Regions from separate parts of the Homo sapiens genome. Here region 1 is linked to region 2. Evidence: fine-mapped expression QTL. A gene starts in region 2. The other region holds a variant in brackets. All regions are shown on one strand. Distances are between the middles of the regions. Region 1 overlaps LOC105377675 (a long non-coding RNA gene). Region 2 holds the start of LSM11 (LSM11, U7 small nuclear RNA associated).

Evidence for each region. PIP is the estimated chance that this variant, and not a neighbour inherited with it, causes the effect. A credible set is the group of variants that fine-mapping cannot tell apart.
Region 1: its variant is the best candidate, but not a certain one, in a credible set for the expression of LSM11 in lymphoblastoid cells (GEUVADIS, PIP 0.72).

What each region holds. Positions count from the first base shown.
Region 1 is chr5:157,659,388-157,667,727 of GRCh38, reverse strand. It overlaps LOC105377675 (a long non-coding RNA gene), which reads right to left. Exons shown (of 3, transcript XR_941127.3): 3 at 5,691-8,340. It also overlaps a transcript of SOX30 not described here. Among named protein-coding and RNA genes, the nearest start is that of C5orf52, 8.0 kb to the left of the region's middle. The variant C/G (reference allele first, on the strand shown) is at 3,777.
Region 2 is chr5:157,739,435-157,747,774 of GRCh38, reverse strand. LSM11 (LSM11, U7 small nuclear RNA associated) reads right to left here and starts at 4,063. Exons shown (of 4, transcript NM_173491.4): 1 at 3,577-4,063. The coding sequence starts at 4,024. THG1L (tRNA-histidine guanylyltransferase 1 like) reads right to left here. Exons shown (of 6, transcript NM_017872.5): 6 at 6,326-8,340. The coding sequence ends at 8,293. RefSeq lists an enhancer at 3,200-3,700 and a silencer at 3,720-4,279.

The DNA.
Region 1 (8,340 bases), 80 kb after region 2:
TCGCTCTGTCGCCCAGGCTGGAGGGCAGTGGCATGATATCAGGTCACTGCAGCCTCTGCGACCTGGGTTCAAGTGGTTCTCCTGCCTCAGCCTCCAGAGTAAAGTAGCTGGGATTACAGGGGCCTGCCACCACATCCGGCTAATTTTTGTATTTTTAGAAGAGACAGGGTTTCACCATGTTGGCCAGGCTGTTCTCAAATTCCTGACCGCAGGTGATTCCGTCCGCCTTGGCCTCCCAAAGTGCTGGGATTACAGGCATGAACCACCATACCCAGCCTCAAGGTTTTTAAACTGGTTTTTCCAAGTACTCCAAAGCAGTACAATGCATTTGGTGGGGGAATGAAGGGAGGGGAAATGAAATGTATTTTCAACAAGAAATGAAGTTGTGTTCAAACATACTTAATCTCTTTAAGAGATAGTACTTTTCATCTGTCCACTGCCACCATCATAGAACTTCAGGCACAATGAATACTCCACAGAGATTTTCCAGTGACAAGCTGAGCTCATCTCTTTATTTCATAGGAGTCTGGGGCAGCAGTCAGGACTCCTACGTCCCATCCCTCCACTTCTTGGGTGAGCCTCTCCCTCATCCACATCTCCCTAACCCAGCCTGACTCTCCCTAATGGCCTATCCATCCCAGAGTGGGTGACAAGTTCTTCAGATACCTAGTGGAAGAGACACCTGGGTTGGAGTCCAGCTTTGATGTTAAAGAGTTGACCTTGGCCAGGCATGGTGGCTCATGCCTGTAATCCCAGCACTTTGGGAGGCCAAGGCAGGTGGATTACCTGAGGTCAGAAGTTGGAGACCAGCCTGGCCAACATGATGAAACCCCGTCCCTACTGAAAACACAAAAATTAGCCAGGTGTAGTGGTGCATGCCTGTAATCCCAACTATTTAGGAGGCTGAGGCGGGAGAATCGCTTGAACCCAGGAGGTGGAGGTTGCAGTTAGCTGAGATTGTGCCACTGCACTCCAGCCTGGGCGCCAGAGCCAGACTTCATCTCAAAACAAAACAAAAAACCTCATCCATAAAATGGGGCTAATAAAATTACCTATTCTGCTGTTGGGAGGATTCAATGAGATCATGTTTGAAAAGAGCTGGGCCTTATACCTGGCACATGAGTGCTCAATAAATGTTAATATGCTAACGATTTTGATGACCTGAATGGGATCCCAGCTGAGATTTCATTTGAACTGAGGTGTGTGTGTGTGTGTGTGTGTGTGTGTGTGTGTGTGTGTGTGTGTGTGTCTACTGGACTAAAGAATCTTTCATCTGGGCATAGTGGCTCACACCAATCCCAGCACTTTGGGAGGCTGAGAGGGGAGGATCTCTTGAGCCCAGGAGTTTGAGACCAGCTTGGGCAACATAGCCAGACCCTATCTCTACAAAAATACAAAAATTAGCCAGGCATGGTGGCATGTTCCTGTGGTCCCAGCTACTCTGGAGGCTGAGGTGGAGGTGGGAGGATCGCTTGTGCCCAGGAAGTCAAGAATACAGCGAGCCATGATTTTTCCACTGTGCTCCAGCTTGAGTGATAGAGTGAGACCCTGTCTCAAAAACAAACAAACAAACAAAAACAAAAAACAAAAACCTTTGGCCAATCTCCTTAGTTTCAAGATTCCATTTCTCCCACAATATCTTCCCATCCAATACCTCTCCATTCTTCACTCACTAATTTTTCTTTCTTTTAATCTTCTTCTCTCCCAATAACTAAGTGGCTTTCAGGAATTTCATTGCTTTGAAATTTGAGCCGAGATCAAATCACTGCACTCCAGCCTGTGTGACAGAGTGAGACTCCATCTAAGAAAAAAAAAAAAAAAAAAAAGGGAATATCCTGCAAGATGGTCAGTCAGACCAGGTTTTGCAACTTTGCAGTGACTCACTGTGTAATCTTAGTGAAGTTCCTCCATCTCTTTGGGTCTGAGTTTCCTGAACTATTAAATGGGGGTAATAATACACAATAGATGTCAAGTACCTAAAACACTTAAGGGCTCCATATAGTTTTATTTTTATTTATTTATTATAAATAAATTATAAATTATAATTATTTATATTTATTTAAATATTTATATATTTAAAATAAATGTATATTTAAAATATATATTTATTTTATTTTATTTTATTTTTTATTATACTTTAAGTTTTAGGGTACATGTGCACAATGTGCAGGTTTGTTACATATGTATACATGTGCCATGTTGGTGTGCTGCACCCATTAACTCGTCATTTAACATTAGGTATATCTCCTAAAGCTATCCCTCCCCGCTCTGCCAATCCCACAACAGGCCCCGGTGTGTGATGTTCCCCTTCCTGTGTCCATGTGTTCTCATTATTCAATTCCCACCTATGAGTGAAAACATGCGATGTTTGGTTTTTTGTCCTTGCCATAGTTTGCTGCGAATGATGGTTTCCAGCTTCATCCATGTCCCTACAAAGGACATGAACTCATCATTTTTTATGGCTGCATAGTATTCCATGGTATATATGTGCCACATTTTCTTAATCCAGTCTATCATTGATGGACATTTGGGTTGGTTCCAAGTCTTTGCTATTGTGAATAGTGCCACAATAAACATACGTGTGCATGTGTCTTTATAGCAGCATGATTTATAATCCTTTGGGTATATACCCAGTAATGGGATGGTTGGGTCAAATGGTATTTCTAGTTCTAGATCCTTGAGGAATTGTCACACTGTCTTCCACAATGGTTGAACTAGTTTACAGTCCCACCAACAGTGTAAAAGTGTTCCTATTTTTCCACCTCCTCTCCAGCACCTGTTGTTTCCTGACTTTTTAATGATCGCCATTCTAACTGGTGTGAGACGGTATCTCATTGCAGTTTTGATTTGCATTTCTCTGATGGCTAGTGATGATGAGCATTTTTTCATGTGTCTGTTGGCTGCATAACTGTCTTCTTTTGAGAAGGGTCTGTTCATATCCTTCACCCACTTTTTGATGGGGTTGATTTTTTCTTGTAAATTTGTTTAAGTTCTCTGTAGATTCTGGATATTAGGCCTTTGTCAGATGGGTAGATTGCAAACATTTTCTCCCATTCCGTAGGTTGCCTGTTCACTCTGATGGTAGTTTCTTTTGATGTGCAGAAGCTCTTTAGTTTAATTAGATCCCATTTGTCAATTTTGGCTTTTGTTGCCATTGCTTTTGGTGTTTTGGTGTTTAGACATGAAGTCCTTGCCCACGCCTATGTCCTGAATGGTACTGCCTAGGTTTTCTTCTAGGGTTTTTATGGTTTTAGGTGTAACATTTAAGTCTTTAATCCATCTTGAATTAATTTTTGTATAAGGTGTAAGGAAGGGATCCAGTTTCAGCTTTCTATCTATGGCTAGCCAGTTTTCCCAGCACCATTTATTAAATAGGGAATCCTTTCCCCATTTCTAGTTTTTGTCAGGTTTATCAAAGATCAGATGGTTGTAGATGTGTGGCATTATTTCTGAGGGCTCTGTTCTGTTCCATTGGTCTATATCTCTGGTTTGGTACCAGTATCATGCTGTTTTGGTTACTGTAGCCTTGTAGTATAGTTTGAAGTCAGGTAGCGTGATCCCTCCAGCTTTGTTCTTTTGGCTTAGGATTGTCTTGGCAATGCGGGCTCTTTTTTGGTTCCATATGAACTTTAGTTTTTTCCAATTCTGTGAAGAAAGTCATTGGTAGCTTGATGGGGATGGCATTGAATCTATAAATTACCTTGGGCAGTATGGCCATTTTCATGATATTGATTCTTCCTATCCATGAGCATGGAATGTTCTTTCATTTTTTTTGT[C/G]CTCTTTTATTTTGTTGAGCAGTGGTTTGTAGTTCTCCTTAAAGAGGTCCTTCACATCCCTTGTAAATTGGATCCCTAGGTATTTTATTCTCTTTGAAGCAATTGTGAATGGGAGTTCACTCATGATTTGGCTGTTTGTCTGTTATTGGTGTATAGGAATGCTCGTGATTTCTCAACATTGATTTTGTATCCTGAGACTTTGCTGAAGTTGCTTATCAACTTAAGGAGATTTTGGGCTGAGACAATGGGGTTTTCTAAATATACAATCATGTCATCTGCAAACAGGGACAATTTGACTTCCTCTTTTCCTAATTGAATACCCTTTATTTCTTTCTTCTGCCTGATTGCCCTGGCCAGAACTTCCAACACTATGTTGAATAGGAGTGGTGAGAGAGGGCATCCCTGTCTTGTGCCAGTTTTCAAAGGGAATGCTTCCAGTGTTTGCCCATTCAGTATGATATTGGCTGTGGGTTTGTCATAAATAGCTCTTACTATTTTGAGGTACATCCCATCAATACCAAATTTATTGAGAGTTTTTAGCATGAAGGGCTGTTGAATTTTGTCAGAGGCCTTTTCTGCATCTATTGAGATAATCATGTGGTTTTTGTCTTTGGCTCTGTTTATATGCTGGATTACGTTTATTGATTTGCATATGTTGAACCAGTCTTGCATCGCAGGGATGAAGCCCACTTGATCGTGGTGGATAAGCTTTTTGACGTGCTGCTGGATTCATTTTGCCAGTATTTTATTGAGGATTTTTGCATTGATGTTCATCAGGGATATTGGTCTAAAATTCTCTTTTTTTGTTGTGTCTCTGCCAGGCTTTGGTATCAGGATGATGCTGGCCTCATAAAATGAGTTAGGGAGGATTTCCTCTTTTTCCATTGATTGAAATAGTTTCAGAAGGAATGGTACCAGCTCCTCCTTGTACCTCTGGTAGAATTCGGCTGTGAATCCATCTGGTCCTACTTGGTTGGTAGGCTATTAATTATTGCCTCAATTTCAGAGCCTGTTATTGGTCTATTCAGGGATTCAACTTCTTCCTAAACATATTCTGAAGGCAATTGCTTGAAAAAGTTATTATCAGTAGAAAGGAATGTCTGGGTTATGATAAAGGGTTGTGAAGACCTAGGTTTTATCATGCAGACAAAGCCTCCAGCAGGCATTAGAGAGAAGACCATCAATGTTTCTTATCAGATATAAGGTTTGTGTTGGTTAATGCTGGAGGAGTGTAATGAGGCATGTCCAACCCCTACTTCCTTTCATGGCCTGAACCAGTCTTTCAGGGTAAGTTTTAGAGTTCCCTGGCTGAGGAGAAAGTCCAATCAGATTTTTGTGGGGGAGGCTTTTGAATTTTATTTGTGGTTTACACATCAAAGAAAAAACCTCCAGGGAAATTATAAAATATTTTCTACTGAATGACTGTAAAATCAGAGCATATCAAAATTAATGCAGGTAAAGCAATATTTAGAGAGAAATTTATAGCTTTAAAAATTAGAAAGGAAGACTTCAATAACCTAGAAAAATTAATTAAGCTTTCACCTTAAGAAACTACAAAAAGAAAAGCCAAAGTAGAATGAAGGACTAAAGACCACAGCAGAAATCAATAAAAAGAAAACAGCAAAACAATAGAGAAAATTAGTGAAACTTACAGTTAATTCCTTGAAAAGATCTACAAAATTGTTAACTTTTTAGTCAAATGACCAAGAAAAAAAGAGAGAAGACAGAAATTACCAAAATTGGGATTAAAAGAGGAAGCATTCTGAACCCTATGGAAATTAAAAGGCTTATAAAGGAATATTTTGAACAACCTTATGCCAACAATTTGTCAACTTAGATGAAATGGGCAAATTCATTAACAGAAATGATCAAAGTAGACTCAAAAAGAAATTATACAATTTGCATAGATATATATCAGTGAAAAACATTAAAGCGTTTAATTAAATTATTTTAGAATCTTCTTCAAAGCAAAGTCCAGGCCTCCATGGTTTTATTGGGAACTCTATTAACATTTAAATAATTAATAATACCAATCCAATGGAAATCTTTTCAAGAATAGAAGGGGACACTTTACAGCTCATTTTACCCTGATACTAAAAGCCACAGACAAAGATATCACAAGAAAATTATAGAACAACACTCGTCATGAATGTAAATGCTAAAATTGTTTAAATAACAACAAATTAGATCCAGTAATGTACAAAAAGGATTATACACTATTACCAAGTGTGGTCGATTTATTACAGGAATGTTCTTTAGCTTAACATCTGAGTATCAATTCATGTAATACATATATTAATAGAATAAATCAGTGGTCAGCAAACTATAGCCAAAAGCAAACTATAGCCCTTGGGCCAAATCTGGCATGACATTTGTTTTTGCAAATAAAGTTTACTGAAACAAAGCCAAGCCCATTCATTTGCATATTGTCTATGATTGCTTTCTGCTACAAAGCAGAGTTGATTGGTTGCAACAGAGCTCATATGGCTCACAAAACCAAAAATATTTACTATATAGCCTTTTCTGGAAAATGTTGCTGACCCTTAAAGGAAAAAGCCATATAATCATCTCAATAGACACAGACAAAGCATTTGATAAAATTGAACTACTATTCATGGTAGAATTCTCAATAAACTAGGAATAGAAGGAAACTTTCTTACTTTGATAAAAGGCAGCTACATAAACCTATGACTAACAACATGCTTAAAGGTGAATGACTGGATGCTTTCTTCCTAAGACTGGGTGCAAGGCAAAAGGATGTACACTCTCACCACTTCTATTTAACCTTGGACTAAAAGTTCCAGCCAGTGCAATAAGGTAAGAAAATAAAAATACAAAAATCAACATACAACCAACTGCAAAGGAAATTTTAAAAAATTACATTCACAAATAGCATAAAAAGAATAAAGGATTTAGAAATAAAGTTAATGAAAGAAGTACAGGACAGTACACTGAAAATTATAAAACATTGTCAAAGGAAATTAAGACCTAAATAAATGGAGATATGTCCCATGTTTGCAAATAGGAAAATACAGTATCATCAAGGTGTCAGTTTTCCCAAAATTGATCCATAGATTCAATATAATTTCTATCTAAATACCATTAGGGTTTGCTTTAAAAGAAATTGATATGATGAACCTAAAATTTATCTTTTAAATCCAAAGGACCAAGAAAAGCCAATATGATTTAATGAAAGAACAAAGTTCAAGGACTTACATGATTTCAAAATTTCAAAATTTACCATAAAGCTAGAGTAATCAAGACTGTGGTACTGGCATAAAAATATGTATATAGCTTGGCACGGTGACTCATGCCTATAATCCAGCCTGGGTAACAGAGTAAGAACCCCATTTGTAACAAAAGAAAAAAAAAGAGATACTGTAAACCAAAAATAAAATTCTAAATTCCCCAACCAATGAAATGGACCCCTCCTTTTGGCCAAGGGTATATTTTTTATATTTTATTATTTTATTTTATATTTTATTTTATTTTACTTTACTTTATTTTATTTTATTTTATTTTATATTTTTGAGACAGAGTCTCACTCTGTTGCCCAGGCTGGAGTGCACTGGTGCAGTCTCAGCTCACTGCAACCTCTGCTTCCTGAACTCAAGCAATTCTCCAGCCTCGGCCTCCCGAGTAGCTAGGACTACAGGCACAGGCCATCACACCTGGCTAATTTTTGTATTGTTTTGTAGAGACGAGATTTTGCCACGTTGCCCATGTCGGTCTAAAATTCTTGGACTCAAGCAATACTTTTGCCTCAGCCTTCCAAAGTGCTGGGAATGCAGGCATGAACAACTGCACCAGGCTAGGGCATTTTAAAGTAAACCTAAAACACTAGCTCAGGCTACAATGGGAATGGGTGGTCAGACATGCCTCATTAAACATTCCTCCCGTTGGAATTCAGGCACAGCTGACCAGCATTAACATAGAAACAGCGACTTTCAGACTGACAGAATAGACTTTTTAGGTCTGATATTCTCTGAAGCCTACTATCTGGAGGCTTTATCTGCATAATAAGAACCTTGGTATCCACAACCCCATATCTTAACCCAGACACTCCCTTCTGTTGATTCTAGGTCTTTAGATAAGTCTTTCAACCAATTGCCATTCAGAAAATCTTTGAATCCACCTGTGATCTGGAAGCCCTGATTTGAGTTGTCACACCTCTCTGGACTGAAGCTATGTACATCTTACAGTATTGAATGATGTCCTATGTCTCCCTAAAATGTATAAAAGCAAGCTGTAGCCTGACCACCTTGGTGACATGTTGTCAGGACTTCTTGAGGCTGTGTCACGGGGATGTCCTTAACCTTGGCAAAATAAACTTCTAAATTGATTAAGGCTTGCCTCAGATACTTTTGGTTTATAGTACATAGATGGAAGGAATGGAAGGAACAGAACAGAGAGTTCAGAAATACACCCATGCATCTATTGTCAATTACATTTTGATAACTGAAATCAGAATATGAACTGAAACCTTGCACAAAATTAACACTAACTTTCTTATTGGACCCCACCACTTACCCAAAGTTAGCCTTTGAGTTGGGGGTTTCCACAG
Region 2 (8,340 bases):
TTTTACTGCTGTACACAGGGCTCAGATGTTCTTGATTTTGCCTATTTTCTTGCTCTTTATTTGCAGGAAGTGAAGTCAAAGTTATCCAAAGAATATCACTTTATTAAAATGAAAACATCAAGACACCATATTGTGGGAAATTATTTCAGCAATCAAAGTAAACTACAACAACAGGACTCAAACAAATTTTCAATCATGGTATCACGTCAGAGGCCCAATAAATCAGGTTTGTTTTGAAATCCTTCTCAGCAGGATGTGTGCGAGTAAAAGGACTGTGTAGGCTCCCTGCAGGAAAACTGAATTTGGAACTGGAGACAAGCCATTCACCTAGACAATGGTCTAGGAGCCAAACCCTGCATGTCATATGCATTTTGGATTGACCACACACACTTGTTCACACCGGCACAGGCTGCACACCAACACACCTGTAGCTAAAACAAAGTAATGATAACACTTTTTCTTACAGCTTTATAATGTCAAGACGTGAGCTTGAACACACCAGTTCATTTCACAGTGACAGATATACCTAGAAAAAGCTTGCTTGAAGCACAATTATAAACCAGAACCACCGTGGGCTAGGTATGGTGCTGCGATACTAAGGAGAAATATAGACACTAGAATTATGTGGAAAAGAGGATAATGCTCTTTAGTCTTGTCTTACCATCTCTATAGGCATGTCAATATTAAAAAGGAGGAAAAGCAATTGCATTCCACTTGCAAGTACAGCTTGTGTGTGAGTTCTTTGTTGGTATCAGTGATGGCTTAGGCTTAATGATGACGAAAAACCTTTCCTCCTATGCTTTTTTTCTTCTTTAGTATTCCCAGTATTGCAACAGCCTCCTATACTTTTATTATTACTTTTTTTTGAGACCTCGTATCACCTCTGTAGAGGTCTCTATGATGTCCCTATGATCTCGGCTCACTGCAGCTTCCACTTACAGGGTTCAAGCGATTCTCGTGCCTCATCCTCCTGAACAGCTGGAACTAGAGGCAGATGCTGCCATGCCCAACTAATTTTTGTATTTTTAGTAGAGACAGGGTTTCACCACGTTGGCCAGGCTGGTCTTGAACTCCTGGCCTCAAGTGTTCTGCCCGCCTCGGCCTCCCAAAGTGCTGGGATTACAGGTGTGAGCCACTGTGCCTGGCTACTTTTAAAATTTTATTACTGCAAGGAAAAGAATACAACTGCTCCACAAGGGAATTCAAAGAGATTCTATGACAGAGATACAAAGTGAAATATTTTACAGTTAAAACACCATTACACTTAATTTTGCACTCCTTGTTTTTTCATAAACATTCCACACTGTCCTCTCTGTGAATTTGGATGGGTAACTTGGATCTGAATTGATGAAATACATCATTTTAAAGTCAGCGACAAAATGTAGCTCCTCATGTATTCTTCATTATGTTTCACTGATGATATGACCTAACAAAGCTTCTTCTTGCTGTTACAGCCTGATGGAACTTACATTTTATGTGAATATTTTGCAAAGGATTATGCATTCTCAAATGCATAGGCATTTTTTTCCAGAAAGCATTTGTATATGTCCACAAATAGTATTATCTTACTGGTATCTATATTTTGATTTTCCTGAGCAACTGTATCCAATCAGAGTTTAGAGTAGGCATATATTTTTTTAAATTAAAACTGTGGCATACATATAAAACATACCTAGTTCTTTTTTTTCCCCCCTTCCAACTTTTGTTTTTGGATCAGGAGGTACACGAAAGGTTTGTTGCAGGTGTAAATCGTGTGTCACTGGGGTTTGGTGCACAAATTATTTTGTCACCCAGGTAGTGATCACAGTACCCAATAGGTAGTTTTGTGATTCTCACCCTCCTCCCACCCTTCACCCTCAAGTAGGAACTCTTTCTTGAATGAATCCAATCCTCACCCATGTTTCTGTTGTTTTCTTGCTTTCTGAAGGTCATCAACTCTGTGCGACGTCAATGCCTTTCTCTCATGTACACTCAACTGTCTGCAGTGCCATGGTGAAAATTTTCAGTATGTAGGGCATATTCTCTGAGATCTTGATTCCAGGGATATATACTTAATCATAAGAAGTTGACAAAGCTGGTCTTCACACACTGTCATACCATTACAGTAAAGTGCTCTATAGGGAAAGCTAAAACCACCCACCACATAGCAATACACAGGAATATTCCTTTCCCTTGACAATCTTGGTAGCAAAGCAATAACTGGTAAAATAGAAATAAATGTTGCAATGAGACTTGGAGTGCATTTCAACTACCTAATGGTGGCAAATTGCATAGGCAAATTAAGGTCCCCCAAACTGCTCTCATTTTGGGAACAAGCATACTGTCTTTGTGTTACAGCCAGGCAAGCAGGCCGGGGTAAATCCTAGCTTGGGCAGGGATGCTGTGGCATGGTAAGACATCCAACGAAGGCACACGGAACAGCACAGAGCGTTTCAGGATGTTCTCTCTTAATAAACAAATTTCTAGGAATGAAGCAAAACAGTCCCTTGCTTGGCACACCTCTCCATCCAAAAGACAGTGACTTAATAAGGTAACAATTTAATTATCAGGATACAGATGCTTTGAATGGCTAAGTAGGTCATTGTGTTCACAGGGCAGATGTCAGAACTGCTTGCCAGATGACAAAAGAGATAACCTTAGGCTGTTTTTATTCCATTTATACAAGACCTAACTCACACATTAGAGCCTCTGCTGTTTACAGCTTTACTCTAAGGATCTATGAGGAGGCTCCAAGAAATTCCCTTGTGCCATTTACACCTTTAGAACTTAAAATAACCTGCACATATGGTAATATGAGCCTGACAGACACAGTCCTGCACCCAGCCAGGCAGAGTGGCTGTAAAACAGCGTCTGTGTTTTAGTGGCATTCTGTGCCTGCTGCATTTCAGCACTTGTGACTTAGTAATGTGAACATATGTGTATCAAGACTCTGCAGCCCTTCTGCTTATCGCACTCGAGAAGGAGCTGTCAATGTACAGGGGTTATGGGATTATGCGCCTGTGCTATCTGAACAAATCTCCCCACACTCCATCCGATCATCCTCAAATCCCACTGACCAAATACTCTCCTTCCCCTAATATTGGCTGTGCGCTCCCCCACGTCTCCCGTTTTCCGCCCCACCTTACCTCTCACTGTGGTCTCTAAGACCTCTCATCACCTCTGTAGACGTCCCTATGATGTCCCCCAAACTCTGTAGCCCCGCCACCTCTCCAGGTCCTCCATCAATCCTGTAGACCCTCTCGGCAGGCTCATCACCTCTGTGACCCTTCCATGGGCCCCGATTACCGCTGAAGACCTTTCCCACGGCTTCTTATGACCACTACAGCCTTACCACTCTCCCTCTGTTGCTCCTACAGCCCCTTTTCTTACTCAGGGTGACCCTCCCCACGCCCTCATTACCCACATTACTCAAGCAGATCCACCCCATAGTCACTGATGATCCCCGCAAATTTTCACCAAGGCGCTCCCGCAATACGTGCAGACCCGCGCCCGGCCACCGCCGCCCCGCAGACGCCCCCTCGGCAGCCAGCTTCCGGACGGCGGCTGCCCCGCTTCCCGCCCGGCCCGCGGACTCACAGGGCATTCGCGTGAGCACGTTGCGTGGCGCCTTCCTGCTCCGACCCGGACCCCTCCGGCCCGCTCCTGCGGCCCCGTCCCCTTCCTCTTTGGCCACCATGAGACGGCGGAGGCGCTGGATGCGCTCGGGGTCCGGGGCGGGCGCGTCCGGGCGGCGACGAGTCCTGCCCGAGGGCCCGGGTGCGGCGGGAACCCCAGAGCCCGCGGCCGCGCCCCGAGCCCGCCCGCGCCCGCGCCCGCCGCCCCGGACTCCGGTCCTGAGGAAGCTCTCGTACTCCGCCACGTTGTTGAAGCAGGGGGCATTGGGGTAGGGAATGGGAGGCAGGCGGGGCGCGTACAGGGCCAGCAGCGGGTCGAAGCTGTCAGAGCTGACATCCAGCCGCGGGCTGGGCGGGCGCGCGGGGCTCCCGGCGCCAGCCGACCTCGCCCCCCGCTCCCGCTCCTCCATGTTTGAAAGGCCCGCAAGCCGAGGCCGATGGGAAGAAGGAACGAAGCCGCCAGAGGGCGGCACTGCGCAGCCGCGGCGCGGGGTTGCACTGCGCCGAAGCGGCCGCGGGAGGGCAGCACCTGTCCTCGTTCCACCCGGGCCGGGGGGCGTGGTACGCGGCTCCGACCAGCCCGCGCCTCGCACCGCCTCCTCCCATAGCTGACAGGTTAACGCTGTCGACTGCTGCTTGACCTGCTCCAGCGCAGTTTCCCCGTCTGTATCATTATCACTTAGGGTGTTTGTTAATACTCTGGGTTCCCCGGGAATGAGCTCGGGATCGCATCCTAGCTTGAGCTGGCAGGAAGCGTCTGGAGGAAGGCAATGAATGTCTCAGTTTGCTTCCATGCTGAGTACTACTGATAGGGTGGGAAGAATAGCCTATCTGGGCTCAAAGTATTTAGCGTGTTTCTCGTCTGAAATATGATATAAATAGCACCTACCTTATAGAACTGACCTCAGGATGGAGAGATACTGCCTACAGAGCTCATAATAGATGCATGTCAGCCAATACTGGGTGTCTGTCCTCCATTTCCTATACCCTGTGCATAAACAAATTTGTGCTTAGTATCAAAGAAAATTCATTATATCACTGTCTTTCTAAGCATTGCTAACCAATTGGAAGAAACGAAGATCCAGCTCTTGGAGGAAACTATGGAAAATTCCCAAGACCTGATCATACCACTTGCTACTTTATAGTCTCAGTTCGGCAAAATATTTTTTGGTTGATTTTAAAATGACAGTCTACTCTTCGCGGAAGGCCCAGATATAACCTTCTCATCCAGCAGAGCCAAAATGTTTCCACTCACCTACAGGCCACACATCACTTGCCCGTCACCACATTCTCAAACTGCCATCAACTAGTATTCTCTGTACTAGTTGCTTTGTGTACATTTCAGTTTCCTTAAGACTTAGGAAGTCCAAGAGAATACTGGAGAGTACCTTAGAGAGCAAGATGAAAATTAATATACAACTCTGAAATATACCTTGGGATGAATGCATACTACAGCGAAGACAAAACCATCAAGCAGGCCGGGCGCGGTGGCTCACGCCTGTAATCCCAGCACTTTGGGAGGCCGAGGCGGGTGGATCACGAGGTCAGGAGTTCAAGACCAGCCTGGCCAAGATGGTGAAACCCCGTCTCTACTAAAAATACAAAAAATTAGCCGGGCGTGGTGGCACGCGCCTGTAATCCCAGCTACGCTGGAGGCTGAGGCAGAGAATTGCTTAAACCTGGAGGGGCGGAGGTTGCAGTGAGCTGAGATCGCGCCACTGCACTCCAGCTGGGGTGACAGAGGGAGACTCCATCTCAAAAAAAAAAAAAAAACAAAAACCATCAAACAGTGGCTTCTAATTGGTAGCAGTACAGGTTTCTTTATGGCACAGGTTTTGAACCCAGCTTATCACTTTGTTCAAAACCCCCTGCCTGAATAAAAAACTCAAAGCTGCAGAATTGCTGGCAATTCAACAAATGAGCGCTCATCCCCACATCATATGGCAAAACTGAGTGATAGCCTTTATAGTGTCATTTAAGACCCACAGAAAGCACGTTTCTCTGGGTGGTTTTCTTGAAAATTTGTACTCTAATGCCTACTTGTATTTTGATATAAAATGCTGTCAACTTACCATTAAGTTAAAATTGCCAATCAACAGCTACATTATCTTACTTCCTTCCCACCCAGCCTATCACAGTATACCGAGGGCCTTGCTGCCGAAGCTGCTGTATATTGACAACCACACATATCAGAAGCCTTTGGGGCTAAAAATCAGATTGCTGGCTGGGCGTGATGGCTCACACCTGTAATCCCAGCACTTTGGGAGGCTGAAGCGGGCGGATCACGAGGTCAGCAGTTCGAGACCAGCCTGGCCAATGTAGTGAAAACCCCCGTCTCTACTAAAAATACAAAAATTAAGCCAGGCATGGTGGTGCGTGTCTGTAGTCCCAGCTACTCAGGAGGCTAAGGCAGGAGAATCACTTGAACCTGAGAGGCAGAGGTTGCAGTGAGCTGACAGAGCGAGACTCCATCTCAAAAAAAAAAAAAAAAAAAAAAAAGATTGTTGAGCTTCAAACCTTTCTGGGGGCTGGGAGGAGCCAAAAATGTGCATTTTAAACAAGCATTCCAAGTAATTTTTTTTTTTGCATCCAGAAGTTTGTGAACCACTGCTATGATGAGGGCATGTGTATCCTAGGCTACCCAGAGATATACACAAAAGTTAGATTTCATATAGTCTATTTGTCTAAGAAAAATAAATGAAAAAGCAGGCCAAAGGAGTTGACATCTTTATTTCTTTCCTCAAAGAGATTTTAGCAATTACCAAACAAGAACCGTATCTCCTCTTTCTGTGGAGTGAGAACAGGAAGGGAAAAAATGGCATCGACAGATGGGTTGTCAATTAGTGAGGGATGAGGCCAGCCATCACCCTTTCAAAAATACATTTTCTTCTTAGATGTAAATTCTGCAGTGCAAGACGAGGGACTGGGACACGGGCTGTCTCTTAATTTTTTTTTTTAAGGCAGTTTTGCTCTGTCACCCAGGCTGGAGTGCAGTGGCATGATTTCAGCTCACTGCAACCTCCACCTACCAGGTTCAAGCAATTATCCTGCTTCAGCCTTCTGAGTAGCTGGTATTGCAGGCACACGCCACCACGCCCAGCTAATTTTTCTATTTTTAGTACAGACTGGGTTTTGCCATGTTGGACGTGCTGGTCTTGGACTCCTGGCCTGAAGTGATCTACCTGCCTCAGCCCCCCAAAGTGCTGGGATTACAGGTGTGAGCCACCATGCCCAGCCATGTCTTTTTTTTTTTTTTTTGAGATGTAGTTTCGCTCGTTGCCCAGGCTGGAGTGCAATGGCACAATCTTGGCTCACCGCAACTTCCGCCTCCTGAGTTCAAATGATTCTCCTGCCTCAACCTCCCAAGTAGCTGGAATCACAGGCATGCACCACCATGCCCAGCTAATTTTTTGTATTTTTAGTAGAGACGGGGGTTTCTCCACGTTGGTCACGCTGGTCTCGAACTCCCGACCTCAGGTGATCTGCCTGCCTGGGCCTCCCAAGGTGCTGGGATTACAGACGTGAGCCACCGCACCCAGCCTCTTAATTCTTAATGGGGCCAAATAATCCTTTCCCTCCGAAATATAAAACCAGGACAAGAGAAAAATGTGAGTTCTCTCACCACCTATTCCCACTACCTTCCCCCTTCAGAGGCCAAGTTTGGCTGCATGTGATGATCCCTGCTGCTCTGTGCTGTTCCTCACCCATCTCCACTGACCCAACAGAAGGTGGCGCTATTAATATTATGCCTCCTCTGACACCTGCTACCTGTCGATTAGCAGAGGATGTTTACCCCTCTGCTCTTGAAATCAAATGTCATTTGTCTGATTACATAGAGGCTATGTGAGAATGTTTTTCAAGAAGTCTAATAGGAAAGTGACTTTTAAAACTGAAATGTCTTGAGTACATGGGGTAAATGTTTCTTCATCCTCATTCACGCATTCTTGTTTCTTTCTCTCATATATACACATAATTCTGTTTCTTCTTAGAAAGAGGTAAATGGCCTTGGCAACTATGCCCCTGGCTAGAAGATGATGATCATGCTGACAACTCCATTAAATCAATCCACAGAATGTGTACGCAAGGACACTGAAGCCACTACTCATTTGTTCAGCCAAAGTTGCCAACTTAGAGACTGGCACAAAGCCCCGAGTTTTCCCTGCAATTCCTGAATTCAGAGGCATCATGCAGGCATTAACCCATATTTATCTTGAGGTCTGCCAAAGACGAATGCAAGTAGATGGGTGGCAGAGGTGAGATTTTCAAAGTCAGTGGGTTTTCTGGTTAAGAACAGGTGGGCGAGAGTTTGGGCTCCTCTTCTCTCATAGATGAAAATAACTGACAGGTTTTTACAAGATTTATGTCACAATCTAAAAATGATTCATTCTCCAAGGCATGGAATAGTTCTTGCTTTATAAAAATAGTACTGCGATTAAAAAAAAAGCACTTCTGCCAAAGGAACCATGTTCCAACACCGCAAACAAGGTGTTCTGCTTAAACAGAGTAAGATACACCACCCCCATCCATCCCTTCCTTCCCTGTTCCCCTCCCAACTTGAGTTGTGTCATTCGCACCAGTGTCCTGGGTGGTAGGGATGCTACAGCCACCTAAGGCAAGGAGCCCTGGGAGGTGGGAGGGCTTGCATGGTTAAGCACACCAGAACTGAAGCGCAAAAGGGTCAGCTGTCTTCATCTAGAATCTCTGGATGTTCCTTCCAGAAAGCATC